4 separate regions of the Homo sapiens genome follow, and regions 2, 3 and 4 are each reported to be linked to region 1. Evidence: microRNA targets listed by miRTarBase, many of them from high-throughput screens and not tested one by one. Region 1 holds a microRNA gene; each other region holds the end of a gene's coding sequence.
What was found. Region 1 holds the annotated microRNA hsa-miR-5186 (AGAGAUUGGUAGAAAUCAGGU, at 4,446-4,466, opposite strand). A microRNA usually pairs through its seed, bases 2 to 8, with sites in the 3' UTR of a target mRNA and lowers its output. Matches are read on the target gene's strand: a 7mer-m8 pairs with bases 2 to 8, a 7mer-A1 pairs with bases 2 to 7 and ends in A, and an 8mer does both.

Region 1 (8,121 bases):
GAGGTGTATAAAGGGATTTATTTAGAATTGCTCATCGATGCAAAATGCTGGTGACTCTTTTGTAAATATAAATATTATTTAATAGGGAAACAGTTTTATTCATCTCTATGTAATATGTATATCTATGTAATGAAATAAAATGTGGCTTTAAAAAGAGTAAACAAGATGCATATGTACTGACATGGAACGTCCTCTAAGATATCCTGATAAAGAAAGAAACAAGAAGCAAAATAATATATACATCTGTTACCATTTGTAGTTTAAAAATAGGAAGGGGAGTGGGGAGAGGTATACATATCTCTGGTAACCTGGGGAAGCAGAACCAAAGTATGTGGAAGGCAGAGGAGGAGAAATAATTTTTTCCTTATTATACAATCTTTTGTGCTGTTTAAATAGTGAAGCATGCTGCAATATTTCTTATTTAAATTACACAAATAAATCATTGAAAATGTAACCCATGTGTATAGCCTTGACGTTCTTCTGGTCCAAACACATACTTTCAAGACTTATCTTTTTCTTTTATCAGAGGCGTTTGAACCAGAGCAACTCCATCTTGAAAAGGGGCTGAGTACAATAAGGCTGAGCCCTACTGGGCTGCATTCCCAGGAGGATAAGGCATTCTTAGTCACAGAGATAGGAAGTTAGCACAAGATACAAGTCATAAAGACCTTGCTGATAAAACAGGTTTGCAGTAAAAAAGCCAGCCCAAACCCACCAAAGCCAAGGTGGGAATGAGAGTGACCTCTGGTCTTCCTCACTGCTGCAGTCCCGCCAGTGCCTGACAGTTTACAAATGCCACAGCAATGTCAGGAAGTTACCATATATGGTCTAAAAAAGGGGAATATTAATAATCCACCCCTTGTTTAGCATGTCATCAAGAAATAACCATAAAAATGGGAAACCAGCAGCCCTCGGAGCTGCTCTGCCTATGGAGTAGCCATTCTTTATTCCTTCACTTTCCTAATAAACTTGCTTTCACTTAACCCTATGGATTCACCTCAAATTCTTTCTTGCACAAGATCCAAGAACCCTCTCTTGGGTTCTGGATTGGGACCCCTTTCCGGTAACAGTTTTACTCTAGTATAAAGATGACACATACTGTTCAAAGCATCTTAAAGATCACCTGGTCAAACCACCTCATTTTAAGGAAGTACCTTCTAAAGGTACTTCCTCCAAGAGTGGAAGGTACTTGGCCAGGATTACACAACTTGTTAGTACCAATGTCCAGACTAGAGCCTCAAGCTTCTTAATTCTACAGAAGTGCTCTACTGTGGTGCCAGACCCCTATTGACTCCAGTAGGGAAGGCACCAATGCACCATGTCCAAGAGCCCAAAGAAGAGACCCAAGTGAATAAGATATAGACTTTATCAAGGACGTACATACAGGGCAGTCAGGGAGTGGTCGGATGGACAGGAAAAGTGCTACCACTTGTAAAGATCATGGAGTTTATATAAAAATGTTCATTTAACCCCCTCCACCTAGCAACCTCCACCTAGCAAACTCCATTTAACCCAAAACATAGGGCCTCAATCCTCTGCATGACCTGCATTCTAAGGGATGGGCCAGGGATTCATATGTTCTTCATAGAGAAGGAGTGAATCTCTGGGTTGGCCACTCCCGGATTCCTTAGCTCAGAACTCCTAACACACATTTTTCTTAGACGGTAGGTCATTCATAGGGTATGCTTGAGTTAATGCTCTCAGGTGTGTCTGCCATATATCTTCTCACCCTGCGGCCCTCTAGGAGAGGGAATAAACAGCCTTGACCGTGAGAGTGACTTTCTTCCCATTTCTCCTACCTGGTACTGCTTGCTAAGGCCCGTACCTCTGCACCTCATGTCCCAGGGCATCCTGCCTACACTTTAGGCATCAACTAACTAGAATAACAAAATAATAAAATGTCCTAACTTGGGCCTTCTTAATTTGAGGTATGTGAATGGGCTTCAGGAAATCCTGAATCTAATAAAAAGCTAAGGACTCTAGGGAGAGAGTTCAGTTTTCCATGAGCTTCACTGCCAAGTAAGACAAATAACACGTTTATGGATATATAAAAGAGACCTCAGAAGCCATCAAGCCATCAGATACTCAATTGTCCCTGACAACAACTTGCATTTTTTCCTTCTGTTAGAATTATATCCAAGTGCTGGAGAGTTGTCACCAACAACAGTAATATTCACTTGGACATTTAGCTCTAGTTTAAAGCACTGGAGAGAATTTGGTTTCCTGTAGTTGAATTTGCAGCGTTTAAAAAAAATATTAGCCTGCCTTATGATATTTTATAAGTATTTAGGAAGTAAAATTTTGGTTGAACAAAAGCCATAATTTATTTAACAAATATTTATATAGGGCTTACTATATGCTAGGCACTGTTTTAAATGCTTTATAATAATTAAGTCATTGAATTGTCAGAGAACTACCTATGAGGTAAGTGCTGTTCTTATATCCATTTCACAGGTGAGGAAACTGAGGCACAGACAGGTTGGGGAAGCAATCCAAATGAAGACATCAGAGGGTATTCACCCAGCAAGAGGCAGAACTAAGATCTAAATTCAGGCAGTCTGGATCCAGCATTTATGTTCCTAAACACATCTTTGCTCGCTTCCTGTTATGAGTGTGAAAAGAATATTCTGTTTCATAGAAGATGATCATCATCAGGTTTTACCACAAACCTTGCATTGGCTTTAGGAGTAAAACATAAATAGCTATATTTTTTCTAATTTCTTTATGTTAGTTCTAATAAACAATGTATTAAATACATATTTTTAGGGCATTACATGCATATTTAATTTGACCAAGCTGATATTATCGGGTTTCATACTCCTTTTTTGCATCAGTACACACATTCAATTTTATATTTGACTTTTTTTTTAATTGCACAGGGAGCCAATTGGCAGCTTTGGATCAAATTGGCTTACATATATGTTTTGGCCAGCATGACGTTTAAGAATTTATTTCCTTCCTTCCTTCCTTCCTTCCTCTCTTTGTTTCCTCCTTTCTTTCTTTTTTTCTTTGACAACATTTACAAATTGGGAAATTGACCATGAAAGTCTAAATTTCTGGCTTCTTTTTGAAAAGACAGAAGGAAGCATTGGGTTTGCATTCAGGCATGGAAATATTAGGCTGGACTGAGAAGTGGCTGACCTTTTAGATGAAGTTTGTGTTCCCCAGTTGGCCATAGTTTTTACCAGTTTGCTTTGCTTGATATCTGCATGCATTTGGGTTACGGCAGTTGAATGAGGTATGCATGTCCTTAGAGGCCAAGAAACAATTTACTTACTGACTGAGCTTTAGCATGAGAGAGCATAATGACATGTGAGTTACCGGTGAATCAATTACAAGAGGTACCCAAAGGTAAGCGTGCAGTTGAAAGTTTCATATACAAGTGGTTGTAAATAAATAGCCTATAACTAAAAAGTAAGAATCATGGTAATGGTTAAATGTTCATTGAATACATACTAAGCACAAGATTTCTTATAGGTATCAGTCCCTTTAACTCTTGTAACAAGCCTAGGAAGTAGAAAACTGAGACAGAGGCAAGCTAAGTAACTTGTGCAAGATCACCAGCTAATAAACAGCGCAGTTAGGACTTCAGTCAGGCAATCTGGTTCTGGAATCTGTGGCTTATATTATGCTATACTTTCTCTCTAAAAACTCTGAAAGAACTCTCTAGTACTGGCAGAGAATGGGATTTACTGGTTAATTCATATGATGGTTTGACAATTGCTGTGTGAATTATCAATTGTTAGGAGGTAAGACCAGTTGAGAACTTTAAGCAGTACTTCACTGGGGTTTGGCAAATTGGTAGAGAGACCTTGAATCTAGAATCTAGTGCTTGACTTTATAGGCCCAGAAACCATATTTCACCCATTTGTAAAAATCATAATATAAAATCACCAGTATGTTTGTAACCCAGAAGTACAAAAAGTGAATAAGGAATTTGAGATGCCATTATATACAGAGGTGAGTGGTAAGGTCTGGTTTACTGGCATCCTGGGAGCTCCTGGCCAGAGCAGAAGGTGAACATTGTCAAAATTGAAACAAGGGATCAAGAAAGCCAGGCCTGCCTCCAGGTTGAGGTAAATAGTTCAAATTATGAAGTTCAAGCAGCTACAGAATGATCTGTTCCAGGGGTTCAAAACTTTTTTGTGCATCAGACTCACCTGGGGGAAGTTATAAAAACAAACAAACATAGAAATGTTCTGCTTTATATTTTTAGACCTACTAAAGCACCTACCCTGGAGTTCTAGTGAGTTACTGAGCTAATTCTGTTGCTTCTGGCCCACTGATTGGTATTTGAGAAACACTGTTCTAGTTGGAATTTGCCTTTTGAGAACGTTAATGCATAGTATCAGATAGATACGAGAGTGATAGATTAAGATGATAGCTATGATTCCTGTATTAATTAATGCATGAAAGTGTTAGCCAGCTTATGGCATGACCCTCTCACCTGATTTCTACCAATCTCTCCCCAGAAAGAAATCAGCTGAGGAAAGGTTGGTAGAAATCAGGTGAGAGGGTCAAGTCATAAGCTGGCTGAGTTGGGGAGTAGGCAGGGGTCCAGTCCTGGGAGAATCAGTGCAGAAAGCAACTGAGGCAGTGCCAATGTTTAATGAGAGGCTTATAAAATTGCCACAAAGTGAGGCCCTAGCTACATGTCATGAGAACTCCCTGGCAGAGGGGAGAAAGCAAATTTGGATTAGAATGGGAGGTATCAGCTAGAAAATCAGAAATCTGACCAAATAATGATAAACATGATAGTTTATGAATTAGGAAGCAGGGAAGTGAAACCCTACCCCACAAATGATAGATTAGGAAAGATTTGAGATGAATAGTAGAAAAGATAGTGCATAAGGTCTCCTCTGCTCTCCCCAGAACTGAGGGATGATTAAAGTTAATAGCATTTGTTGGGTTCTACTTAATAAGTACAACTTTTTGGATTTATTAAACCAGTTGGCATTGGTTGTGTTATGCTATAACAAACTCCAAATCTCAGTGGCTAACAAGGAAGTTGACTTCTTGTTCTTCTGACAACCCATGTGTTGTCCCTGCTTTGGGTCCCAGGCTGATAGAATAGTCGCTATCAGGAGGATGCTACCATGGCAGGGACAAAGAGAGCTCAGAGGAAATCATGCCAAGAGATAAACATTCAACAGGAAAGTGGCATACATTGTTTGTGCTTTCAGTTCATTGGCCAGAATAGTTACATGGCCTCCACCAACCACTGGGAGCCATAGAGTGCTATGTGCCGGAGGGCAGAGAGCTGGGAATATTTAGTGAGCAGCATTCGGTACTACCATCTTTCCCTCTGAATAGGTTAACAGCCACAAGTCCTGTCACAATTTTTAGCAATTTCTTCAATGTCAAGAAGAATTATATTTCTTAGCTAACAGAGGTGGTGTAGTTTCAGGGTGCCTGCCTGGCCTATCTACAGCACTGTCAGCTCCATGCTCACCCTTGCTGAAGAGATGAGTCTCTCTGTTCAAGTTCGTCTAATGTCATAGCCTTTTCCCTGATTGGACCAGGGACCAACACCTATCCAGGTGGCTGTCAATCTGTTGGCTAGCCTGTAGGCAAATGTATTTTCTGAGACACAGAGTCTCTAGTCAAATGGATGTGGGCCTATGAAGTAAATGGGTCTGTAGACTTGGGCCCTGGGCATTTTGATCCTGTCTGTGGACAGTAGCCAATGATCATAGATGAGGAAGATTATATGCAGTTGAGACAAAGAGAGAGAAACTTCTATCTTCAGTGGTTCCCTGGATCTCAGCTCCTATTCCTGGGAGATTCACCTCTGCTTCATTTTTTGTGAAATGGCTTTATGGCCTTATAATAAATATTCATTTTATTTGAGCCACTTTATTATCCATATGAATAAATTGAGAAGCCTAGTCACTCTGCCTCTGCTGAGAGTATCATCTGTAAACCAGGACTGTAGAAATTCTGGGACTCGTGCTAGGGTGTATAGTTGGGAACTAACAAGAAAAACTTTCACTGTAAACCTACTTGAACTTTATTTTCTTATTTTCTGTATTCCTGATGCTCTGGCATCTTGGGCCTCACAGATCTGGAGGGATGGCCTCTCCCAGCATTAGTTAATTCCTGCAGATATCAAACAGTGTTACCTGGGAGGGTCTCTTTTATATGCAAACTAAGCAATTCAAAGCCTACTGTAACTAGCCCCCTACCTCTGTGGGACCCTTCCACTCCAGGCCAATAGTTTCTTGCCCTAATCAGCCCAGGGCGAGGTGCTAGACAATTCCAAACAGCTCCTACACCCCAGAGCCTGCTGAAATGATTCAACAAGACAATTCTAAACCTGCTTAGCCTATTTTCCTGCCTTGCCCATTCCTTTCCACAAAACTGCAGTAAAGGCGCTGACCCCTGCTTTTCCCCTGTGCCCCCTGCCTGGCTTCCACAAGCGACTTCCCTGCATTGCTGTGCCTCCTATTTCTAGGGAACTGTGAGTGCAAACACCTTCTTCCTTCATGACAGTCATTGTCAGGCTCACGTCTTACTATAAGTGATCAAAACAAACCCCAGTACATTTTAAAACAAAGCCTCTCTCTCTGTTTTCTTCTGGGCCTCAATCTTTGGGTACCTACTAGTTTATTTGTCAGAAGAGTAAAGACCCTCTGTTCTGGTAGGTGGTCCTCTCAGATGTCTAAATTATTAGCTGTCTAGTCTACTGCCACAGAACATATACAATAGAACAAAAAAAGTACTTTTTCCTCTTTAATCCTGTATTTATGATTATTATAATAAATTATCCTTATTTCTAAGCATATGTTTGGTAAAAAGTCAGTACTAATTGTCACAGGCACACTGTTTTACTGGACAAAGCTTGAAAACACATGGACACGTGCCTCCTCCAGACACTGTGCAAACCAAAATCCTTTTATTATGACAACAAAACAATGACCTCATTTCTTTCAGAATTTAATTATCGGTATTACAATTCTCTTGTTAGGACTTTAAATGGGGTCTGGGACACTACTAGATAGTGTTTGGCTTGAGGACACAGAAATGCCTGAATCACGATTTGATTTATAATATCTCCCTAGGGACGGCTCACACAGAGTTCTCTTTCTTTATAAAACCCTGCTTCACCCCTGTGTGTAATAAGCTGACATTCAAGCACATAGCATGTCTGTCAGAAATATCCACCTCCCTTTAGTCTTTGAACATCATGGTGGGGGAGGATTTAGTTTTAGTATAGCAACACTACCCTCCAACCCTCCCATGCAATAGAAAAAGTGTATCCTAGCAATTTTGACTTCCAGACACTGGATTGTCTCTTTTCTGGTAAAGGAAGAATGGGCTGCTGAAGCTCCATTTACTAGGTAAGACACCCTTATGACTGTTCTCAGGTGTATTTGTCAGAGTGTGTAGTCATGAAACCAAACTATGTTAAATATTTCCAGCAGAAAGAAACTTAATATAGGGAATCAATAGATTACAGCAAAGTGCAGAATGCTACTGTTGACGTCACAGTCATTGCACAGCCCCCGAAAAGAAGAATAACGGAGGAGTATGAAGTCTGAGGTAGCCGAACCTAGCAACTGCTGCTAGTCTGCCACCAGCATTTCTATTGCAACAATACATTCTGCCTCCTTTCCACCTGTATTTAATTTGAGACCGAATCTTGCTCTGTTGTGCAGGCTGGAGGGCAGTGGCAAGATCTTGACTCACTGCAACCTCCATCCACTGGATTCAAGCAATTCTCCTGCCTCAGCCTCCCTAGTAGCTGGGATTACAGGTATGCGCTACCACATCCGGCAAAGTTTTGTAGTTTTAGTAGAGACGGGGTGTCGCCATGTTGGCCAGGCTGGTCTTGAACCCCTGATCTTAAGAGATCCACCCACCTCAGCCTTCTATAGTGCCAGAATTACAGGCATGAGCCACTGTGCCCGGCCTTTCCATCTTTTGAATATCACTTGTGTGCCTCTCATTTGTTATCTCTACTATAACTGATGGGGTGGGATTGTAGGAAATGTAGTTCCCAGGCTTCCTGCCCCATGATACCAGAAAAGAGTGTAAAAGGGGCAAAAGTGATGCTAAGTGCTGAGATAATCTGTCACACCATTTAAGTAGGGGTATTGCAATGCCTTGGCTTTCAGGGAC
Region 2 (8,143 bases), not on the chromosome of region 1:
GTTATTGCATGTCCTTTGGATAAAAGCCATTTTATTTTTATTTTATTATTATTATTATTTTTGGGACAGAGTTTCACTCTTGTTGCCTGGGCTGGAGTGCAATGGTGCGATTTCGGCTCACTGCAACCTCCACCTCCTGGGTTCAAGCAATTCTACTGCCTCAGCCTCCCGAGTAGCTGGGATTACAGGCACCCGCCACCACACCCGGCTAATTTTGTATTTTTAGTAGAGATTGGGGTTTCTCCATGTTGGTCAGGCTGGTCTCGAACTCCTGACCTCAGGTGATCCACCTGCCTCGGCCTCCCAAAGTGCTGGGATTACAGGCATAAGCCACTGGGCCCAGCTTCCTAAAACCCCTTTTTAACTGGGGTGAGATGATATCTCATTGTAGTTTTGATTTGCATTTCTCTGAGGATCAGTGATGTTGAGCACCTTTTCACATATCTGTTGGCCATTTGTATGTCTTCTTTTGAGAAATGTCTATTCAGATCTTTTGCCCATTTAAAAAATCAGATTAGATTTTCTTCCTGTTGTTTGAGCTCCTTGTATATTATTAATCCCTTGTCAGATGGATAGTTTGCAAATTTTTTTCCCATGCTGTGGGTTGTCCCTTCACTTTGTTGATTGTTTCCTTTGCTGTGCTCCAGAAGCTTTTTAACTTGATGTGATCCCATTTATCCATTTCTGCTTTCATTACCTGGGATGTTGGGGTATTTATTACTCAAGAAATCTTTGTCCAGACCAATATCCTGGTCTTTAATCTTTTTTTTTTTTCTTCCCTGGCTGGAATGCAATGGCGCGATCTTGGCTCACTGCAACTTCCGCCTCCCAGGTTCAAGTGATTCTCCTGCCTCAGCCTCCAAGTTGCTGGGATTACAGGCTCGCACCGCCATGCCTGGCTAATGTTTTTCATATTTTATTTTTTGAGACGGAGTCTTGCTCTGTCGCCAGGCTGGAGTGCAGTGGTGTGATCTCGGCTTACTGCAACCTCCACCTCCTGGGTTCAAGTGATTCTCCTGCCTTAGCCTCCAAAGTAGCTGGGACTACAGGCGCGTGCCACCATGCCCAGCTAATTTTTGTATTTTTAGTAGAGATGGGGTTTCACCATGTTGGCCAGGATGGTCTCGATCTCTTGAACTCGTGATCCACCCGCCTCGACCTCCCAAAGTGCTGGGATTACAGGCGTGAGCCACCGTGCCCCGCCGTTTTGTTTTGTTTTTTTTTTGAGACAGTCTTGCTCTGTTGCCCAAGCTGGAGTGCAGTGGCATGATCTTGGCTCACTGCAGCCTCTGTCTTCCAAGTTCAAGCGATCCTCCCGCCTCAGCTTCCAGAGTTTCTGGGATTACAGGCACATGCCACCACACCCAGCTAATTTTTGTATTTTAGTAGAGACGGGGTTTCTCCATGTTGGCCAGGCTGGTCTCAAACTCCAGACTTCAGCTGATCCACCTGCCTCTGCCTCCCAAAGTGCTGGGATTATAGGCATGAGCCACAATGCCTGGCCTCATTTTGATTTGATTTTTGTATATGGTGAGATGTAGGGGTTTAGTTTCAGTCTGCATGTGGATATTGTTCTCCCAGCACCATCTACTGAAGAGACTATCGTTTCCCCAATGTATGTTCTTGGCACCTTTGTTGAAAATGAGTTCACTGTAGATGTACGGATGTATTTCCAGGTTCTCTATTCTGTTCCATCGGTTGATGTGTCTGTTTTTATGCCAGTACCATGCAGTTTTGGTTACTATAGCTCAGCAGTATAATTTGAAGTCAGGTAATGTGATTTCTCCAGTTTTGTTCTTTTTGCTTAGGATGGCTTTGGATATTCTGGGTCTTTTGTGGCTATTTTAGGGCTATTTTTTCTATTTCTGTGAATAATGTCATTGGTATTTTTATAGGGATTGCATTGAACCTGTGGTTTATTTCTGTAGTTTACACTTAAAAGTAAGATGACAGAATGTCTACACAGAATCCTCACAGATATAAAGTATAGATATTGCCCATCACATTTTCAGTTGAATGAAAATGGGATGGAAATAGGAATAGAAAATCTATTTTCTATAAAGTAGGAATAGAAAATCATAGCCTGTACTAGAGACCATGGAGAAATTAAGGGTCCAATGAAGGGAGGTAATATACACAGTTTTAACACATTTCACCAAGGCAATAAGTCATTTCTCTTATAACACACAAACAAGAGTAGGGCTAAAAATAGGAAGAAGAAAACAAAATCTCAAAAACTGGCTGTTCTGTAAAAAATGAGTAAAATATGGTTAAAAAAAAAAAGTGCTGCCCAATACCCACTCTCACCAGGTCTGTGGTCTGCATATGCAATAAGAAAATAAGATGGCCCAGGCGCAGTGGCTCATGCCTATAATCCCAGCACTTTGGGAGGCCAAGGCGGGCGGATCACAAGTTCAAGAGATCGAGACCATCCTGGCCAACATGGTGAAACCCTGTCTCTACTAAAAATACAAAAATTAGCTGGGCGTGGTGGTGTGCACCTGTAGTCCCAGCTACTCAGGAGGCTGAGGCAGGAGAATCACTTGAACCCAGGAGGCAGAGGTTGCAGTGAGCCAAGATCGCGCCACGGCACTCCGGCCTGGCGACAGAGGGAGACTCCGTCTCAAATAAAATAAAATAAAATAGATATAAAAAATATTGTGAGATAGGTATGTCACCTTTATCTGCAGATTATATAACTATAGAGCCCAAAAGAATCTATCACCTTATAAGCAGAACTCTAATAAATTTTCAGGTATTACTAGCATATTTTAAGTATTGTGAGACATCACAGTAGATGGTGTTATTATTAGATATTAGAGAGTCAAGAGGATGAAGAGTTATAAAAGAAACCTCAAGATGTGTTAATGAATTCCATTCAGTGTCAATTGTTTATTCATGTAGGATACTCTGCATTTAAACTGAATGAAATTCAAAATATAATCCTAATGGGGTTTTCATTGGAAAATAAATGAGTCAAAAATTCTCATGAAGAAACATCTTTATTTCCAAATAATAAACTATATATTAATAATATATACATACATCTTTATTTCCAAGTAATAAAAGCTATTGAAAAGTGTCAAGGATTGCTAGAATATGGAGAACAGAAATAGATGTGAGCATTTAATATACAACTGATAGTATTTTAATTCAGTAGGAGAAAGGTGAATAATAGTTACTTCTGGCATAACTGGTTTTATTCCTGGATAGAAACAAGTCTGACATCCTGCATTAGATCGTATAATCAATTCCTGATGTATTAAAATATTAAATCTCTGTGTATACACACTCACAGAATCACATATATGAAAAACTGCACTCCACTCCTTTATTCTCTTGCCCTCTGAAATCTTCCAGAAGCAAAACCTTCCTAGGAAACATAGAAAACACTGGAAATGACGCCGGGTGCGGTGGCTCATGCCTATAATGCCAGCACTTTGGGAGGCCGAGGAGGGTGGATCACCTGAGGTCAGGAGTTCGAGACCAGCCTGACCAACATGGAAAAATGCCGTCTCTACTAAAAATACAAAATTTTCCAGGCGTAGTGGCATATACCTGTAACCCCAGCTACTTGGGAGGCTGAGGCAGGAGAATCTCTTGAACCCGGGAGGCGGAGATTGCAGTAAGCCAAGATTGCGCCATTGCACTCCAGCCTGGGAAACAAGAGTGAAACTCTGTCTCAAAACAAAACAAAGCAAAAACACTGGAAATGACTTGGGAAGCTTATTTTATAGAAATAAAACAGACAAGAATACAAAGTGTTTGTTGCAGCATTACTTTTAGATGGCAAAAAAGCGCAAACAATCCATAATATCACAATTGGGAAAGTGGTTGAAAAGGCATTGGTAAATAACACTGTGGAACATACTGTAACCATCAGAAAGACTGTTAGATCATCATCTATTGAAGGAAAATCCAAAATGTACAGTTGAATGTAAAAAAGCAAATTTCAGGGAAATGTATAGTTATCCATTTTTCTGTAAAAACATAATAAAATAATTGTGTGTTAATGTTTTAGCATGAAGAAATATATGGGTAATATACACAACCTTTAAATATTATTCAGAAGAAAATTGACAGAGGGGAGGGAATGAGGAACGGAGAAGGGCAAAGATAATCATTTTTTCTTTCTTTTTTTTTTTTTTTTTTGAGACAGATTTTTTGAGACTCTGTCATGCAGGCTGGAGTGCAGTCAGGATCTCAGCTCACTGCAACCTCCGCCTCCCGGGTTCAAGCGATTCTCCTGCCTCAGCCTTCCGAGCAGCTGGGACTACAGGCACATGCCACCACGCCCAGCTAATTTTTGTATTTTTAGTAGAGATGGGGTTTCACTATATTGGCCAGGCTGCCCCCTGCCTTGGCCTCCCAAAGCACTGGGATTACAGGCGTAAGCCACTGTGCCCAGCCCCTTTTCTTTCTCTTTAATGGTATTGTTTCATTAATTTGGGTGCAAATGCACTATCTCTATAATTTTAGATGAAGAACTTTATAAAAGACATAAGCACACAAGAAAAGAAAGTAAACAAAATCTCATTTGGCAGTTTTCATTTTGATAACGCAAAACATTACAACAGTCCATTTTTAGTAATTCTCTCATTTGCAGGTATTTTTGCTCACTCTACTTTTCTCAAATTTATTATGAAATATTTTACTTCCTTATGCCAGTAAAGTAAAGTAACACAATGTTCAGAGAGACCCGTCTACACAGGATCTAAGAAAAAAGGAAGTGGGGCATAAAATAACAGTTCTACAGACATAAACTTCATCCTTCCACATATGCGATCTGTCCAGCGTGGGGAGCTGCTTGCTGAGCATGTTTTGAGCACAGGGAAGGCCCATTTCAAAACACTAACTTAACCCCAAACAAAGCTACACTGTGGACTTTTTTTTTTTTTTTTTAATAGTCTCATTCTGTCGCTCAGGCTGAAGTGCCATGGCGTGATCTTGGCTCACTGCAACCTCCACCTCCTGCATTCAAGTGATTCTCCTGCCTCAGCCTCCCCAGTAGCTGGGATTACAGGCATGTGCCACCATGCCTGGCTAAGTTTTGTATTTTTGAGTAAAAATGGGGTTTCAACATGTTGGCCAGGCTGGTCTCAAGCTCCTGGCCTCAAATGATCCTTCCATCTCAGCCTCCCAAAGTGCTGGGATTACAGGCGTGAGCCAAGATGTGTACTTCTATATAACTGAAATAGTTCCTTGAACATTTGATAAAGTTTTCCTTAGAAAGAAACTGGATTTGGTGCTTCATTAGTAATAGTTAACTGATCACATGCTAATTTTTCCCTGTTCTCTGTGTTTATGAGAGTCTTTGAAGAGTCCTAATTTTCTTGGAGTCAATATTGATGTATATTTTCCTTAAAAACCATTTTGTTTAAATTTTCAAACATATTAGAAAAAAGCATAATATTCAACAGAACCTTTTAAATCTGTAACTATGTTTCTATCTCTGTCCATTTTTTAAATATGATGCTGTTTCTCTTTTCATACTTTTTTTCCTCATTAGTGCACCAATATTTTGCTTATGTTCTCTTTTCTTTTTTACTGGGTATATAATGCGACAAAAAGAGTATTAGTCGGAATAAAGTCCTTCACACACATTATTCACAGTACTTTCCCCCCCAACACCTAGGATTATTTCATGTTCAATAGTAAGTACATGATGATGGGAAATTTTCTTAACTTGTTACCTTCAAAGGGTCTTTCTTCAGTCAAACACCCTGCCTAATGGTGACTAAGTTCTGCAGAAGTTAAAAAGCCTTTCTACAAATAATAATACTGATGATGATGAATATAATAACGATGACTAACATTCAGTGAGTATGTATTTATCATGTCAGGCACAATTCTAAGCACTTTATCGATCTTAATTCATTTAATCCTCACAAAGCATTATGAGGTAGGTATTATAATTATCCCCCATTTTATAATTTTTACTGAGACACGCATGTATATATGAACAGAAAAATGATCAGCAATAAATAATGAACTGATAAAGACTATCCTTTGGGATATGGTCAAAGGGTACATTTGCCTTTTTGTAATGTTTGCATCTTTTATAAGGAAAATATATTCACACATTACTTCTGCAATTAAAAGATATGATACAAAGATGTGCTTAGGGAGAATGTCCAGCAGGGACTTGTATTTTGGCATGTATTATGGCAAAATATCTAGAGGAGACTACGATATCCACCAATAGGATTTCATAAGTGATATTACAGTAACACAACAAAACACCATGAAGATAATGAAGAATCTCTATTGAGTAAAATGTCGTTCATGAACATTTTTACAATAAGAAAGCCTTAATGTTATAAAGAACAAAAAGAATAAGCCATCTTCAAAAATAAAGAGGTCACTTCTCCCAGGTACTAAAGGTATTTTTAAAATAGTATACAAATCAGGATGTAAACAGATGAAATTTATAGCCATATAAATTTAATATGGATTAAAATACTAAGAATGTAACAATTAGAGAAATTAGGGGAAAAAATGACAATCACAGGACTACATTTCTACAAAAATTCTCTGACGTTAAGAAGGTTAGAAAGGTGTTAAAAGTGCTGTCATTTTCAGTATGACAGACTGAATTATCTATCATATTGCTAGACTGAATTATCTGATGTCAAGAGAAGTAAGCGTTTAGTTAAGGGCTTCCAAAGTATATTCTATTCATAGAGTATTTCTCCAACATTATTTTTCCCAGGCTGAATAAGCTGTAGTCCACAAATAAAATGTTTCTACATTATTCTATCTAGAGGAATTATTAACAAGATAAATTCTGTTTTGAGCCATAATTAAAAGCCTCCCTACACATTTCATATATTCTGTTTCATCACCAGTACAAATTTTGATGCTGAATAAGTTGTGGGTCATAATTAAAGTTCTTTCCACATTCCCTATATTCATAGGGTTTCTCACTAGTATGAATTCTATGATGACTAATAAGCTGTGAACTCTGAGAATAAGCCTTCCCACATATCTTACATTCATAGGGTTTCTCCCCAGTATGAATTCTCTGATGTCTAGTAAGGTCTGAGCCAGAACGAAAAGCCTTTTCACATTCCTTACATTCGTAAGGTTTCTCACCTGTATGGATTCTTTGATGTTTAATAAGTTGTGAGCTCTGACTAAAGGCATTGCCACATTCCTTACATTCATAGGGTTTTTCCCCAGTATGAATTCTCTGATGTTGAGTAAAGTTTGAGCCACTACTAAAGGCCTTCCCGCATTCTTTGCATTCATAAGGCTTCTCACCTGTGTGAATTCTCTGATGTCGAGTGAAGTTTGAACCACTACTAAAGGCTTTCCCACATTCCTTACATTCATAGGGTTTCTCACCAGTGTGAATTCTGTGATGTCGAGTAAGGTCTGAGCCACAAATAAAGGTTTTTCCACATTCCTTACATTCAAAGGGTTTCTTGCCAGTATGAATTTTCTGATGATGAGTGAGTCTTGAGGGATGTCTAAAGGACTTTCCACATTCCTTACATTCATAAGGCTTCTCAATGGTATGAATTATCTCATGTGTAGCAAACTGTGAGCCATGTCTAAAGGTTTTCCTATATTCTTTAGATGCACAGAATTTCTTTTTACTGTTAATGATTTGCTGTAATGTGAAGGATGGATGGTGACTCAAAGTGGGCAGATCTTCATGAGTGAATACCAATTGATTGAAATGTCCCCCCTGAGAGCCGAGTTCTTTCTTAAACTGCCGATTACATTCCCAATCATCTCTGAAACTGGAGCACTGAAAATCACGTCTTGTGAGTTTTTCCATTATTTCCCACTGGGTTGATTCTATTTCATAAATTTCTTTCTTCAGAAATAATTTCTTGGTCTCACATCTTGATTCCAGGACTGAAAGAAAATATGAAAGTAATCACTCACATTTTTCTTGTTTGGGAGAAACAAAACTTCAATCAATATGGGAGAATTTAACCGAATTTTTTTTACAAATGGATGAGGAAAAAAGAGAGTTAGAAGACAGGTTACATAATAAGATGAGGGTAGTGATTAGGAAAACAAAGTAAGTCACTGGTTCCCAAACATTGCTATAGATCAGAATTACTTTGGGAAGCCTGCTAAATATACACATGCTTTAGTCCTATCTCCCTTGTTAAAGGATGACTCTAAT
Region 3 (8,143 bases), not on the chromosome of region 1:
TGCGATTCTTTGTTCTAGGCCCCACCCTCTGTGAGCTTTGTCCCACCCAGCACAGCCGACCCTTGGAAAAACCCCGCCCCCAAATACTGTATTCCATGGAAGTTTTAGCCCAATCCCCATTTTAGGCTGGGGTGGGAAACCTGACCTTATGTCCACCCGTCCAATAATCAAGACTCCATTATTGCTTGAAGCCCCACCCATATCATCACTGCCTCTCCCTATCTGGTTTCTATTTGCTGTGCCATCAGTCTGGCCCTTCCCTTTCCTACCCCTGCCCCATTCTGGGATCATTAGGAAAGCTCTGCCCTTGTCATCATAGCCCAGTCCATGTCACCCAGCCCCTCTTCTACCTTTGACCCTGTCCCTTCTTGTCCCCACAGGCTCCTGCCACCGGCGCAGGATGGCTTCGAGGTGTTGGGTGCAGCAGAGCTAGAGGCTGTGCGTGAGGCCTTTGAGACCGGCGGCCTTGAGGCTGCGCTGTCGTGGGTGCGCTCAGGCCTGGAGCGCCTGGGCAGCGCACGGCTAGACCTGGCCGTGGCTGGCAAGGCTGACGTGGGCCTTGTGGTGGACATGCTGCTTGGATTGGATCCTGGCGACCCAGGCGCTGCGCCTGCTTCGGTCCCCACAGCACCCACTCCCTTCCCAGCCCCAGAGCGCCCGAATGTGGTGCTCTGGACCGTGCCTCTGGGCCACACGGGCACTGCCACCACCGCGGCCGCCGCCTCTCACCCAACGCACTACGACGCCCTCATCCTCGTCACCCCTGGGGCCCCCACTGAGAAGGACTGGGCCCAGGTCCAGGCCTTGCTGCTACCAGATGCGCCTCTTGTCTGCGTGCGCACAGACGGCGAGGGCGAGGATCCGGAGTGTCTGGGAGAAGGCAAGATGGAGAATCCCAAGGGCGAGAGCTTAAAGAACGCAGGTGGAGGGGGATTGGAGAATGCACTCAGTAAGGGAAGGGAGAAATGTAGCGCTGGATCGCAGAAAGCAGGCAGCGGGGAAGGTCCTGGGAAAGCTGGCAGCGAGGGTTTGCAGCAGGTTGTCGGCATGAAGAAATCAGGTGGTGGCGACTCAGAGCGGGCCGCTGCGTTAAGCCCGGAGGACGAGACGTGGGAGGTGCTGGAGGAGGCGCCGCCGCCAGTGTTCCCCCTACGGCCTGGCGGACTCCCAGGGCTATGCGAATGGCTGCGGCGAGCGCTCCCCCCAGCCCAGGCAGGGGCACTGCTGCTGGCGTTGCCACCAGCATCTCCCAGCGCTGCCCGAACCAAGGCTGCGGCGTTGCGAGCCGGGGCGTGGAGGCCAGCTCTGCTGGCTAGTCTGGCGGCGGCGGCGGCACCACTCCCAGGGCTGGGCTGGGCATGCGACGTGGCACTTCTGCGGGGTCAGCTGGCGGAGTGGCGACGGGGCCTGGGGCTGGAACCCACGGCACTGGCTCGACGTGAGCGTGCCCTGGGCCTGGCTTCTGGAGAGCTGGCAGCGCGCGCTCATTTCCCAGGCCCGGTGACGCGCGCCGAGGTGGAAGCAAGACTGGGCGCCTGGGCGGGCGAGGGCACTGCTGGGGGCGCAGCACTGGGGGCTCTCTCCTTCCTGTGGCCTGCGGGTGGTGCAGCGGCGACAGGTGGCCTGGGCTACCGAGCGGCTCACGGCGTCCTGCTGCAGGCTCTCGATGAGATGCGGGCTGATGCTGAGGCTGTGCTGGCACCCCCTGAGCCTGCCCAGTGAGGAGTGGGAGGGGGCTTGGGAGTCCAGACTCTGACAGGGGATGCCTGGGCTTAATCCTGGGTGCTTGAAGGGGATGTGGACTCTTGACTTCCAGCTGGGATGTGTGACTTCTTATCACCTGGATTCAGAGAGTCTGGGGGACAGGAATCCTGATTTTTTTTTTTTTTTTTCTTTTTTTTGTGAGACGAAGTCTCTTGTTGCCCAGGCTGGAGTGCAATGGCGCGACCTCGGCTCACTGCAACCTCCGCCTCCCGGGTTCAAGCGATTCTCCTGCCTCAGCGTCCGGAGTAGCTGGGATTACAGGTGCCTGCCACCACACCTGGCTAATTTTTGTATTTTTAGTAGAGACGGGGTTTCACCATGTTGGCCAGGCTGGCCTCGAACTCCTGACCTCAGGCGATCGACCCGCTCCGGCCTCCCAAAGTGCTAGGATTACAGGCGTGAGCCACCGCCCCTGGCCAGGAATCCTGATACCTTTGGGAACCATGGTGAATGACATCTAGACCCTTCTGTCCTGAAGGGAGTTGGTGGCCCAGACTCTAGCAGGGACTATGTCTTTGTCTCCTAGGGAGTAGAAACTGGAGTTACTGGATGTTTAGTCCTCCAGGGAGGCTGGTAGAAGTCCTGTTTCCTAATTGGTGGGGAGGTGTCCATGACTGGGACCTGAACTCCAGTATAGGGGAGGGAGACCTGAGCGCCCCAGGGAGCTGGAACTCTTGGGCTTCAGAGCCTCAGAGGGAAACAGGGTCTACATTTCTCTGGGAGAAAAAGCCTGCACACAGGTCCCCAAGGAGCAGTGGGCTTTGAATCTTGATGGGGTGGCGGAGGCCCCTGGGGTCTGAGACTTCCGGGGTTCTAAGATGGCTGTGGACCTTGGTTCCTAAATATTGGGTAAGGGGAGGTCTGCATCTGGAGGAGGGATCGGGGGCTTGTGCGAGAAAGCTGGAGACTTCTTGATCTCTCCTGGGGAGTGGATGGGTTTCTATAATTGCCCTCCAAAAGCATGTAGGGAGGGTGGTCCCACAAAAATGAGGTGAGGTGGGTAAGAGGTCTGGGCATGGTGGGCTCTGGGAGTAGCCAGGGACCAGGAATGAGGTCTTTTGGGTGTGGAAGGGCAGTAAAGCATACCTCAGAGACAGCTCCTCCAAACCTTGTATTGGGATCCCGGCAACTGCCTCTGTGAGTGTGACTGGGAAGGGATATGACTGCCTTCATCTTCTAGGTGCTGAGCAATTCAGGTGATCTCTGGGGAGTCTGTTTCTCTGTCTCTTTTCTTTAGGAGTTTCTATCTTTTTTTGGCCTTTTTCTCCTGGTATTTAACCATAACCCTTTATGGCCTTGGTGTTTTGTGCACCTTCCTTTTCAGAAGAGCAGCTGTACTGCTGCACTGGTCCAAACACTTCTGTATGGACACCTCGGGTATCCCCAAGAGGCTCTGCTTTCTGATGTACATAGAGGGTGCTGCATTGAGCCAGGGGCCCACCAAATGGGTGGTCAGGCACTTGAGACCATGGGAATATGCCAGGAGTGAATGAAGCAAAGGCAGAAACCACAGTGCCTGGAATGTTCTAGGCTGCTAGCCACATGTGGGGGAAAAGTTGCAGGTTACAGAATTCTTCAGTGTCAAAAACAGAAAAGGAGGATCTGAGAATCCAAGCGATAGAATCCCTTTTGTCGTAGACAGAAAGAGCAAAGTCCAGAGAGGGCAGGCTTGAGGCCCAACAGCACACAGTAAGGCCCTGTGGGTCTGGCCCTTGCCTATTCTCATTCACTGCCCCTTCCCACTCCTGTCCAGCCTGATAGACTTTCCTTCTTTTTTTTTTTGAAATGGAGTCTCACCTTGTCACCCAGTCTGGAGTACAGGGATGTGATGACTGTAGCTGAGATGACAGGCATGTGCCACCACACCTGGCTAATTTTTGTAGTTTAGTAGAGAAGGGATTTCACCCTGTTGGTCAGGCTGGTCTCGAACTCCTGACCTCAGGTGATCCACCCGACTCAGACTCCCAAAGTGCTGGGATTACAGGTGTGAGCCATCATGGCCGCCTGACTCTTTCTGATGCCTGAGTGGCTACCTTGAGTCCTGCCTGGGGACCCATGCACCTGCTGTTCTCTTTCCTTCAAGGCTCTACTCACAACTTCCTGTTCTACTCTCAAACCTTCCTGTGACGGGCTCAGTCAGATCTCAGCTCACGTATCCCCTCAGAGAGGACTTCCCCTCCCTGACCACCCTATCTGAAGTAGCTCACATTCCCCCACTATTCATTTCGGCCAGTTGAGTTTCCTTGTAGCAATTATTACTGTCAAAAATGATCTTATTTATTTACCTGTTTATTGGCTTTTGACCCGTTGCCTGTCCTGTTCTCTGTTGTTTCCCCAGCATCTAGAACAATAGGTGCCTGACACAATAGGTGCTTCGTAAATATTTATTATTATTATTATTATTTTAGAGACAGGGTCTTGCTCTGTTGCCCCGGCTGGAATACAGTGGGATGATCATGGCTCACTGCCATCTCCAACTCCTGGGCTCAAACGATCCTCCCACCTCCGCCTACAGAGTAGCTGGGACTATAGGTACACAGCACCAAATTTTCTGTAGAGACGGGGGTCTTGCTTTGTAGCCCACACTAGTGTTGAACTCCTGGCCTCAAGTGATCCTCCTGCCTTGATGGGATTACAGGTGTGAGCCACCACACCCAGCCTAAATGTTTATTTCATTGGTCAGTGTCAGAACTAGGATTGGAATTTAGATTGTTAATCTCTTGCCACAAGATAGGAAAATGGAGCAAGATGAGGAGAAAAAAGCATTTAATGGGAGAGAACACCCTTGTCTGAGGTCAGGGACCTGGGAAGCAAGCACGACTTTGCCACTGTCACTGTGTGTTACTTGGACAGTGCCTTATTTTCCCATCTGTGAAATAAAAGAGCTGGATAAGAACCTTAGTTTTGAGATCCTGTCTCCCTTAAAAGCTGAAGACAAAGGTAACTGATCCAAGGGCAGACAAGGGATGGTACCATCATCTCCAGCTTGGACTCCCACTGCTGACAAAATTTGTCCCTTCAAAGTTGAGATAGCTACCATGGGGAAGAGCACTTAGTTCTATACTGAATGGCTCCAGGCATTTTCATGAAAGCTCTTTCAGCTTTGGGGAAGAATATTCATCCATATCTTTACCCCATCATATTAGTGTCTAAGCCCTGCAATCAGGCATGTCAGCCACGTGATGGAATGGGAGGGCTGCAGGGCAGCACTGTCCAGTAGAAACGAAATGCAAGCCACATATGTCATTTTAAGTTTTCTTTTTTTGAGATGGAGTTTCACTCCATCACCCAGGCTGGAGTGCAGTGGCACGATCTCGCCTCACTGCAACCTCCGCCTCCCAGGTTCATGTGATTCTCCTGCCTCAGCCTCCTGAGTAGCTGGGATTACAGGCATATGCCACCATGCCTGGCTAATTTTTGTATTTTTAGTAGAGATGGGGTTTCACCATGTTGATCAGGCTGGTCTGGAACTACTGACCTCAGGCCACCCGCCTTGGCCTCCCAAAGTGCTGGGATTACAGGCATGAGCCACCGCGCCCAGCTAATTTTTGTATTTTTATTTTATTTATTTATTTATTTTTTGGGAGACGGAGTCTTGCTCTGTCACCCAGGCTGGAGTGCAGTTGTGCGATCTTGGCTCACTGCAACCTCAGCCTCCCAAGTAGCTGGGATTACAGGCATGCACCATCATGCCCAGCTAATTTTTGTATTTTTAGTAGAGATGGGGTTTCACTGTGTTGGCCAGGCTGGTCTTGAACTCCTGACCTCAGGTGATCCACCGGCCTCAGCCTCCCAAAGTGCTGGGATTATAGGCGTGAGCCACTGCACCCGTCCTAATTTTTGTATTTTTAGTAGAGATGGGGTTTCACCATGTTGGCTAAGCTGGTCTGGAACTCATGGCCTCAAGTTATCTGCCCACCTCAGCCTCCCAAAGTGCTGAGTAAGCCAAGTTTTCTAATAGCCACATTAGACAAGTAAAAGGAAACAGGTTAAATTCATTTTAACATGTTTTACTTAACCCAATGTATCCAAAATAGCATTTCAACATGTCATCGGTTTTTTAGTTTTTTTTTTTTTTGAGATAGTGCTTCGCTTTGTTGCCCAGGCTGGAGTGCAGTGGCACAATCTCGGCTCACTGCAACCTCCACCTTCCAGGTTCAAGTGATTCTCCTGCCTCAGCCTCCCGAGTAGCTGGGATTACAGGCACCCGCCACCATGCCCACTAATTTTTGTATTTTTGGTTAGAGATGGGGTTTCGCCATGTTGGCCAGGCTAGTCTCAAACTCCTGACCTCAGGTGATCCACCCACCTCGGCCTCCCAAAGTGCTAGGATTACAGGCGTGAGGCACCGTGCCTGGCGTCATCGGTATTATTTAAATGAATTATGTTACGTTCTTTTGTGCTGTCTTCAAAATCTGTTATATATTTTACACTTACACCAAATCTCAATTACCATGGTACATTTTTATCTGAAATGCTTGACCTTTATTTTGATTTCATAAAATTCATAGTTGGAGAAGTAGATTCACATATCCAAGTTGTTCCAATTATATAATAGTTTTCCAAAAACTGAGATGGGTGTCCATTTTTTTTTTAAGTAAAGATGCAGGTCTGGTTATGTTGACCAAGTTGCTGGGTTGTTTTGTTTTGTTTTGAGACAGAGTCTCACTTTGTCACCCAGGCTGGAGTGCAGTGGCATGACCTCAGCTCACTGCAACCTCTGCCTCCCAGGTTCAACTGATTCTCTTGCATCATCCTCCTGAGTAGCTGGGACTACAGGTGTATGCCACCATGCCTGGCTAATTTTGGTATTTTTCTCAGAGACGGGGTTTCACCATGTTGGGCATGCTGGTCTTGAACTGCTGACCTCAGGTGATCCGCCCACCTCGGCCTCCCAAAGTGCTGGTATTACAGGCATGGGCCACCACACCTGGCCTCAGCTGTTCAATTAAAAGTAAATACAACTTAAAATTCTATGTTTCATTGGCAGTAGTGCAACATTAATACTGAGTAGCCACATGTGATTAGTGGCTATGGTATTGGACAGGGAAGGTACAGAATACTTCCATCAACATAGAAAATTCTATCAGTCTAGCTCTAGGGGCAGATAGTCCTTCCACTGACTTGGGCAAGTCACTCTACAAATGGCATCTACCTCACATGGTTATGGTGAGAATTCAGCGTATGTATGTACATGCAGGCACACAATATGCACACAGACACATAACATAGTACACCCTTTCCTGAAAAGCCTGACACATGGAGCTCAAACATGAGTGCCACCCACCCCTGGGCAGCACCAAGATGGCTCTAGTCTGGGTGCCTTTGTCTCACCCCCATGCCTTTGCTCGGAGTGTGCTCCTCATTTTTCTGCCACTTTGACCCTGTCTCTGATTTGGTCCTGTCTGACATCACTGCTATATGCTTTGCTCCTCTCAATTTCCTCTGCCCTCATGCCAGCAGGAGTCATGCCAGAGATCATATCTGAGAAAGCAAGACAATTTTGTGTGTGTGTCTGTGCCCATAGAGGAGTGCTGGTTGTGTTGATATAGTTGTAGATTGGTTGTGTTTACACAGTTGTATATATTGACACCCTTGAGTGTTATGACTTCTTTTGGGGGTGGTCGCCTTTTAAATCATAACTTTTAATGGGATTCCATTTTAGTCTTTGTGAAGACATAAGGTTGTTGGCAGGCATCTGTCCCTGGGAGCATCCAAGCAGAAAAGACTAAGACTCCCTTGTAGACAGATCACTGGCCGCCACTGAAGTGTGTCTGCATGGCACCACAGGGCTGGAAGACCCTTGAAGGCAGGAATTCAAGGAAATGTATGATGAATTTTGGCATTGCCATCAAAAGCAGAACAGGCATGGAAAACTTGGGTGAGTGGGCGAGACAACCTCCTCACCACAGCAGAGTTCCATCCATGCCTGGATAATGATGGAGGGATTTGTGTCCACTGCAGTGGGGAACCATGAAGGACACATCAAGGGTGTGGTTGGCCTGTGGTGCTCTTTGGAGGAATGAATAAAAATGAATAGAAATCCTATTGCGTGTCTGTTCTTTTGGAGTTTGAGGGAAAAGAAAGATCCTTGAGATTTTGACTGGGCTGGAAACCTAGACTCCAGCGTCTGGGGATAGGAGGGATGGTGGGGAATCCGCTGGGAAAAACTGGGCTGTGATCAAGAGAATTTATCAGTATCTGAGTTTTTCCACCCTGGAAGGAGTGCGGGCAGACTTACTGTTTAAACATTGGGAGCTTATGATGGTAAAGCGCCTTAGTTCTGGAGCCAGGTATACCCATTAATGACCCCAACTGGGCCAGCCTTTCTGTAGCCATGCCCTTGGATTGTTGCTCTCCTTCTAGGTTTGACTATGTG
Region 4 (8,018 bases), not on the chromosome of region 1:
AGTCCAGGGATAGGTCAAATTTCAGGCTTGTAAAATGTATACAGCTAGGTGAATAAAAATAAAAGTCACTAGTGTTAAGCAAAGCAAAGAATTCTCTGATAGAATACATTCAAGAAAAGCTCTGTACAATAACTCCCTGTTAGAGGGTCACAGTGCACATTACCATAAAGGGATTTGGGAAGTCTAACCAAAGAAAACCTTGTTTAATCCAAAATGCTCGAGAGCCATGTTCTTTCTGCCTCTTGTCCACATAGTTTACATAATCAGCTTCATCAATAAAACTTCATCAATAAAACCACAGTACATCACATGAAGTTAAAATATAGTTTTATAAAATTTTTACTTTATGTGATTCTACATGTTTAGATTATAAGGCATTTCTTACTGTGGGTCAGTAAAAAAAAAATTTGTTGCTTTTGGAGGCTGAGGTGGGAGGATCGCTTGAGGCCTGGAGACCAGCCTGGACAACACAGCAGTAACTATAAAAAACATATAAAAAAAATCTGAAAGCCACTCAGAGGAAAGGAAATTTAGTACAGGTTGAGCATTCCAAATTTCAAGATCAGAAATCCAAAACCTGAAAGTGTTTGAGTGGCAACATCTGATGCTCAAATGATCATTGGAGCATTTTGGATTTCAAATTCTCAGTGGGATGTTCAACCGGCAAATATATGCATAATATATTTAAAAATCTGAAAAAAATCTGCAATTTGAAATACTTCTTTTTGATCCCAAGCATTTCAGATAAAGGATACTCAACTTGTATCTTCAGTTTGTTTTCGCCACCCCACCACAATATTCTTTTCTGAAAGATCAATAGGAAAACATGATAAATCAAAGTGAAAATAATGTTAAAAGCAAACATTCCATGAGATGCAGAATTCAAACATACCATACAATAGCATCTTCATGCCATTCAACATTTTGGTTGAATAATGTTGCCCATATTGCTATTTGTATATACTTTATAACATAATCTTGAGTTCTAGGTAAAAAGAGTTATATAGTTTTCAAATTAACCAGTACTCATTTATCAGTTAAGAAGGTATATTAAGCAAAAGTCTATCAGATTTGTAGCATCTAATTTTGCCATGGTTTTTCAAGATGGTCTGTTAGAAGAAAATGACTATATTCGTACTTGGAGGATAGGTATGTCGTGGCAAATGTGTGATGCTTTCAAATAGATTTATATTCTTCCTTTAAGGGTAAGTATTACAGAGAAACAGCATTCTGCAGTGTTTCTTAATGTTAGATGCCCTTTCGCTTTGTAGAGAGAGTATTGGTGGTGATGTATTTGTATCTATGTATACAAAATTAAGGGATTATTATGCATTAATAACAGACTGATAAGGAAATAGAATGTTATATTTACATATTGCTACAGGTCATAAAGCATGTTAAGTATGGCAAATTTGATTGTAATGATGTACTTCTTTTTTTAAAAACTACAGATGGGTGACGAACAATGACAGTTTTGCACCAGAGGACCCATGCTTCTTTTGTGATGTTTGCTTCCGAATGCTGCACTATGATTCAGAAGGCAACAAACTGGGGGAATTCCTTGCTTATCCTTATGTTGATCCTGGAACCTTTAATTAAGAATAGCTACACTCACAAAAATACCCCCTCATGAAATAACTGTTCTCTTGGATGGTTACCTTATTTCTAAGAAACGCCACTGAGGAACAGGATCCACTTTGAACAGTCCGCTAAAGCTATCAAAAAAAAGTCCAAATGACAGATTTTCTTATAATGATAGTATTTAAATGTTTATAACATAGTTTAATTTTATATTTATTCCAGATAGTATTTAATTTAGTGCTTTTTACCCATTTTGAGTTGAGTTGTAGTACTTTATATATTCTGACTTTAAATCCTTTGTCAGACACACATATTCTTTCTCCCAATCCATGCCTTCCCTATTCATTCTCTGTCCAGAGTTTTTTGCTAAAGATAGAATTATTAATGATACATCAAGTAGTGGAAGTGTTTTGAAAATTCTTTGAAGAATGTGAGAGCTACACCTTCTACCATGAGGCTTCCAAGGTAAAGATCCTTCAAATAACTGTAATGGAAACTAGGGAGAATGAATTATTTACAAATAAGACAAAATTAATAGCTTTGGGATTATTTATTTTTTGAGACAAAATCTCGCTCTTGTTGCCCAGGCTGGAATACAGTGGCGCAATCTCAGCTCACTGCAGCCTCCGCCTCCCGGATTCAAGTGATTCTCCTGCCACAGCCTCCTGAGTAGCTGGGATTGCAGGCACCTGGCACCATGCCTGGCTAATTTTTGTATTTTTAGTAGAGACGGGGTTTCACCATGTTGGCCAGGCTGGTCTCAAACTCCTAACCTCAGGCGATCCACCCGCCTAAGCCTCCCAAAATTTTGGGATCACAGGCGTGAGCCACCGCGCCCGGCTGCTTTGGGGGAATTTAATCTTAGTGTGCTGTTTAGTAATGTTAGGTTTTGTTTTGGAGGAAACTAGGCATACAAGACATGTTAATAAGACTATGTGAATAATGAATTTAAAAAGATCTTGAGTATATACTCATAACTCCAGAAATAACATTAACTTGAAGCTTTATTTCTTGACAAAAGCTTTATGAATGTTATGAGTTTAAAATATGTCAATTTAATACTATGATTTAAAAAACAATAGCAGATTTCGTATGACTGTGGGGACATGGAAAAATCAAGATCCTATTGATTGCTAGCTCTGGCTCACTTATTCTCCGGTAATGATACTATTGGATATATACCAAAATTATATAAGCAAAAAGAAAAAAAATAAGTTTTCCTGGCCCAGGTCTTCCATTCTTCTGGTCCCCTTACTATAGTAATTCTAGTTACTCTCATCTTATTCTGAGGAAAAAAAAAAAAACCAAAACTTTTTAAACTTATTTTTTGACATAGGGTCTTACTGTGTCACCCAGGCTGGAGTACAGTGGCGTGATCTTGGCTCACTGGAGCCCTGACCTCCCTAGGCTCAGGTGATCCTCCCACCTCAGCCTACCGAGTAGCTGAGACATGGTGGCACAGGCCACCATGGCGGGCTAATTTTTTTATTTCTTGTAGATACAGGGTTTCACTATGTTGCGCAGAATAGTCTCGAACTCCTGACCTCAAGTGATCCATCCGCCTTGGCCTCCCAGAGTGCTGCGATTACAGGCATGAACCACAGCGCCCAGCAAAATAAACTTTCTTTATTTTCAGGTCTAGACCATCAGATAGATTTATTCAAATATTTTCTGGGAACCTTTATGGGTAGAACATTTAATACTGTTTAGAAGACTTTTAGGAATACTATAGATTTCAAATGCATCATTTAAAATAAATAAATTCCACTTTCTCTCTCCTAGGTTGTATTTAAATTTGACTGAATATCTGGATGGCTAAGAACAGACATTTATCTTACACATGGAAAACTGACGAAACCTATAAGCCTATGTGTTTGACAGTGAAGTATGTTTTATGGACTTAAATGCCACAAACAGTTAAGTCCATTGGCTTGGAGATGACAAGCACGAGTTTCTGGTATGTCTAGTGTTCTCATTCACTGATTCAGTCAGTACACAGATAATCAGTATAGAGAACTTAAGAGGCTGGCTTATGTTATACCTAAATTTTTACTTTCTTGTATACAACAATGCTAAAATTGAGCAGATTGATAACTGCCAGCAAACCATAGATTTAAGATAAATGAATGATTTACCCAACCCTAAAATTCCATGGGTAAAAATTTTGATTCCTTTATTTTCAATACTGCGTTCCTTATAGGTCTTACATGCATATGCAAGGATATTTTATCTTATTCATTCATTTCATACTCTCAAAACACCAAACTTCAAAAAGTTAATTATTGTCATAATGCATTATTCCATGTGTGGTGTCAATACATTTTAGCGGACAAAGAAGAAACATGCCAGTTAAAACATTTCTGCTACTGGGATTCTTTATTAATTATTTGAGAATGTTATTTTGCTAGTTCTTAAGGTTAAGTTTTTCATCAAAGACTCAGGTACCTATTATTGTTCCCTGGTGAAACTGAGGAGAAAAGTTAATCAACCAGGTTACTCCCACAGTTTGCCCGTGTGTTATGTATCAGTTATACAGGTATCCCACCAAGTTCAAGTCAAAAGAAATTCCTAACTTTGTATATTTCTGGAGCTATAAAACCCCTGATTTAAGACAGCTTTTCTCTTTTTTCGAGGCAGCTTTTCTTTATGCTTATTTCAATCAAATGTAACACGCCTGTCAAATTACATGTAACACATTAGCTAATGAAGATAGGCAACTGAAAATGTTGTCATGAACATGTCAACCTGCTTGGTAGTTGAATTTGACTTTTATATAATAGTGGATACACATGCACAGAAGTTACTAGAGAAGCAATAGCTATTTCTTTAAACATTCTTCAGGCATCAGTACCATTTAAGGACAATTAGACATTCTAGTTTTACTAGGAGAAAGGTCAGTCATCTCTAACATTGTGTTGCAGAATTACACGACACAAACATAAACACATTTCTGCCTATTAAACCAGTTTCTTTGTTTCTAAAGAGTTTAATGATACAGGTTTGCTATTTCCATTAGAGCATCCTTTTTCTGGCCAATCGGACAAAATAGAGTTAGCAAAGCCCTCACAGCACCCTATGAAAAATCTCTGCTCTTATACAGGATTAGATGCAGACCTCATCTTGACCTAACATCTGTAACCAGGTAAGTGTATGAGTAGGAACACAGACAGCAGTACTGTATCAGCAAAATCTATCATATTATTTGAAATCACTGGATATAATATTAATTATAAAGTGTATGGTTCTCTCCAGTTGTTCACATACCAAATCCCAGTCAGTTCTCAGATTCAGATAGATGTATCTGCAATTTCTCCAAGCAGCTAAGAAAACCTTCAATGGTCAGTTCTGCTTGGTCATGGTATGACTCTTTTTTTTTTTTTTTTTTTTTTTTTTTGAGATGGAGTCTTGCTCTGTCTCCCAGGCTGGAGTGCAGTGGGGCAATCTCAGCTCACTGCAACCTCTGCCTCCCGGGTTCAAGCAATTCTCCTGCCTCAGCCTCCCGAGGAGCTGGGATTACAGGCACGTGCCACTGCGCCCGGCTGATGTATGACTCTTTTATCCAGTAATCAAAACACATACGTACATACACACACATACCAGCCCAAAAGAGGTGTTAAAACATACATATTACACGTACTTTTTGGAGGGGTGGGGTGGGGTGGGGTGGGGTGGGGTGGGGGTTATCTATCTCAAAATTACCTTTTGGTGCCTTGTCAAGCTGTGGAGTTTTGACCACACACACAAATTGAGCCAATGAACAATTTCAATGATCCTGAAAGTTCTTAAGTCTTATGAATAATTATCAAGAGTTCTGAGAAGTTATCTGTAAATCAGCCTATGACACCATTTCTTGAGAGTTATGATTAAAGAAACAGCAATTATGCTTGAAGCGAACATACATCAACTAGTTAGAGCAAGGTCAGCCTGTACAAGCTGACATAAATTATGAGAATGATGCTCTATCTCTAGAATTGGAATATTCTGTGGCTTCTTTGTAAAACTATAGATCTGGTGGGTCATGGGAAGAAAGGGAGGGTGAACAAAAGATAAATATTACCTTTATTTTTTATCATCTTGAGCTTACTGTTTAGTTACCCCGTTTCCCAAAACAGCACAACCTCTGTGACCAGTTAACTAAGAAATTATTTCCTTGGCAGCAAACCCAGAATTCCATCACTTACTCTTGTAAATAGCAAGAAAGTAATTTACTAGCAGAGTTTGATAGAAAAATTCTTTAATGAAAACAAGTTTACACGTTGAACTTATGGCTTAACTAGAATAAATCTAAGTAAGTTAAAACTGTATAAGGACCAAACAGATAATGACTGGTATATATGCAGGTTCTCTCAAAACGGTGATTCCTAGTTCCATTATAAGACCTCTTTAAAAGCAAAAATGCAATTCTGTAGATGAAAACAGTTATCTCAGAGGGTCAACCACACAATGTCATACAGAGACGCTGGTCTTAAGCCATTTTTTTCCATATTCATATAATTTCAAAACATGAGAAGTATCCTACTTGCTGAGAAGTGCCAAATGACCCTAATATTCAAAATATCTTAGAAATGCTATCCTTTAGTTAACATACCCTTAAATTTTGTAACATTGATTTTACCCTGGATTTAGTCCATACACGTCAATGTACAGACTTATCAAAGTACAATGCTGGAACAACTAGTGTTTGTATTTTTGGAATCTAGAAAATAAAAACAATATAGCCATGATTTCAAATAGGTGAGTTTCCTTATATAACATTTATTCATATTTATTGTATAAGCATCATGATTTTTTCTTCCAATTAAGTTTTAGTGACTTCCTAAAGACATTTTTAACAACATTCCTCAAAAATAAACTTACTTAGTTTTCAGTTTTAGTTACTAGTGCCTGCCTATAAAAGGACCTTAAATGATTTAACCCTAAAGCCAGATTCATTCCTATATATACCCAGTCAGTTGTCTGCAAAGAAGTCCTAAGACTTCACTGAATGCCCAGCCACAAAACTAAATTACCTTCAAAAATTAATGTTTTATAGTTTGTAGAATTCTCAGTTCCATGTCAGTTGCTTAATTAGTTGTCATACCAAAAAAAACCATACAGAGCACACATTGTTCCAAAGAAGCTGGATAATGTAGCACAATGTAGACTGTGAGATTAAAATTAACTTTTGATAAAAAGGGAGTGAGTACTTGTATAGAAGTAACATTTTATCTACCATAAAAATGTGTAACTTCTACAAAACCCACAAACAGTGAAAAGACAGTCTGGTAAATCCAAGGTTTGTAAAAACTATGCACAAAACCCACAGTATTTGGGAAAAGAGGCAAGGTTTATACAAGTAGCAGTTTTAAAAATGTAACTTTGTTCTACTATCAATTACACATTAACATACACACACTAATTGAAAATATGCTACAACCATGTCTGGAAAAGCAGTTTAACATTTTCTAAATGGATTTTATCCCACATTTACTGTATAATGTAGCTGTTAATACTGCACAAGTACACTTAGCGATAATGTTTACTTTACTTTAAAACAAAGGGATTTTCTCCCTCAAAACAAGTTTTCAACATCAAACCTATGCTTATAAAAATTTAAAACTTTCAGCAGTCTATTTCAAATGAAAACCATTACAAACTTCTCAAGTGTTCTCTATATTCCAGGTATGTCAACCTAGTTATCTAGTGTAGAATCCTTCAGAGATATTTCAGTCTCTCTCTCTTCACTGGATGGCCTGAAGAAAAGGGGGAAAGGTACAACTGGAATTAGGATTTTCTCCTGATGAAGGAAAAAAAGACATTAAGTCTGCATTATATTTTTAAACCCATGAAAAGACTGAAACCAACCAAACAAAAGAAAAACTTGACTTGTTATTAGAACAGTCATTATTATTTTTTTCTTCTTCAAAACTGTTATTTTACCATGTTGTATCTTCTTCCCAAAGTAATATGCAGATGAAGCAAAATAACTCAGCAAAGTGTCATGGACCAAGCCCTTTCCATCATTTCTAGCATAAAAGTGAATTCTCTTTAAAGAACATGAGAATGTTTTATATCTGTGATACCAACATATTTCAAAATCTTAATAAAAAGAGAGGTTGATACACACATAGACAACAAGATTTCCCTCAATTTCAGAATTAGAAGGGATGCTTCTATCTAACTCCTTCAGATACACAGTGGAACAAAGCAAGACTTCAACTATGGCTCCATAGCCTATTTTAGGGTGGGTATTAAAAAATAGCCTGTGATGGCCGGGCATGTTGGCTCACAGCTGTAATCCCAACACTGGGAAGCCAAGGTGGGTGGATCACCTGAGGTCAGGAGTTCGAGGCCGGGCTGGCCAACATGGTGAAACCTCATCTCTACTAAAAATACAAAAAATTAGATGGGCGTGGTGGCAGGTGCCTGTAATCCCAGCTACTTGGGAGGCTGAGGCA

Region 2: the mRNA of ZNF566 is a reported target of hsa-miR-5186. Seed matches in the 3' UTR shown: 7mer-m8 at 3,617-3,623.
Region 3: the mRNA of IRGQ is a reported target of hsa-miR-5186. Seed matches in the 3' UTR shown: 7mer-m8 at 5,887-5,893 and 7mer-A1 at 6,206-6,212.
Region 4: the mRNA of SNAPC3 is a reported target of hsa-miR-5186. Seed matches in the 3' UTR shown: 8mer at 2,186-2,193.

The regions. Positions count from the first base shown.
Region 1 is chr3:151,561,459-151,569,579 of GRCh38, forward strand. MIR5186 (microRNA 5186) reads right to left here and starts at 4,537; the gene lies at 4,418-4,537. The region is part of intron 1 of LINC02066 (long intergenic non-protein coding RNA 2066); the gene reads left to right. It also overlaps a transcript of IGSF10 not described here.
Region 2 is chr19:36,442,136-36,450,278 of GRCh38, forward strand. It overlaps ZNF566 (zinc finger protein 566), which reads right to left. Exons shown (of 5, transcript NM_001145344.1): 5 at 2,984-7,866. The coding sequence ends at 6,842. Among named protein-coding and RNA genes, the nearest start is that of ZFP82, 28 kb to the left of the region's middle. RefSeq lists an enhancer at 6,916-8,115.
Region 3 is chr19:43,585,605-43,593,747 of GRCh38, reverse strand. IRGQ (immunity related GTPase Q) reads left to right here. Exons shown (of 3, transcript NM_001007561.3): 3 at 381-8,143. The coding sequence ends at 1,722. Among named protein-coding and RNA genes, the nearest start is that of IRGQ, 6.5 kb to the left of the region's middle. RefSeq lists an enhancer at 3,925-4,014.
Region 4 is chr9:15,458,268-15,466,285 of GRCh38, forward strand. It overlaps SNAPC3 (small nuclear RNA activating complex polypeptide 3), which reads left to right. Exons shown (of 9, transcript NM_001039697.2): 9 at 1,452-3,359. The coding sequence ends at 1,599. It overlaps PSIP1 (PC4 and SRSF1 interacting protein 1), which reads right to left. Exons shown (of 16, transcript NM_033222.5): 16 at 5,799-7,313. The coding sequence ends at 7,253. Among named protein-coding and RNA genes, the nearest start is that of SNAPC3, 39 kb to the left of the region's middle.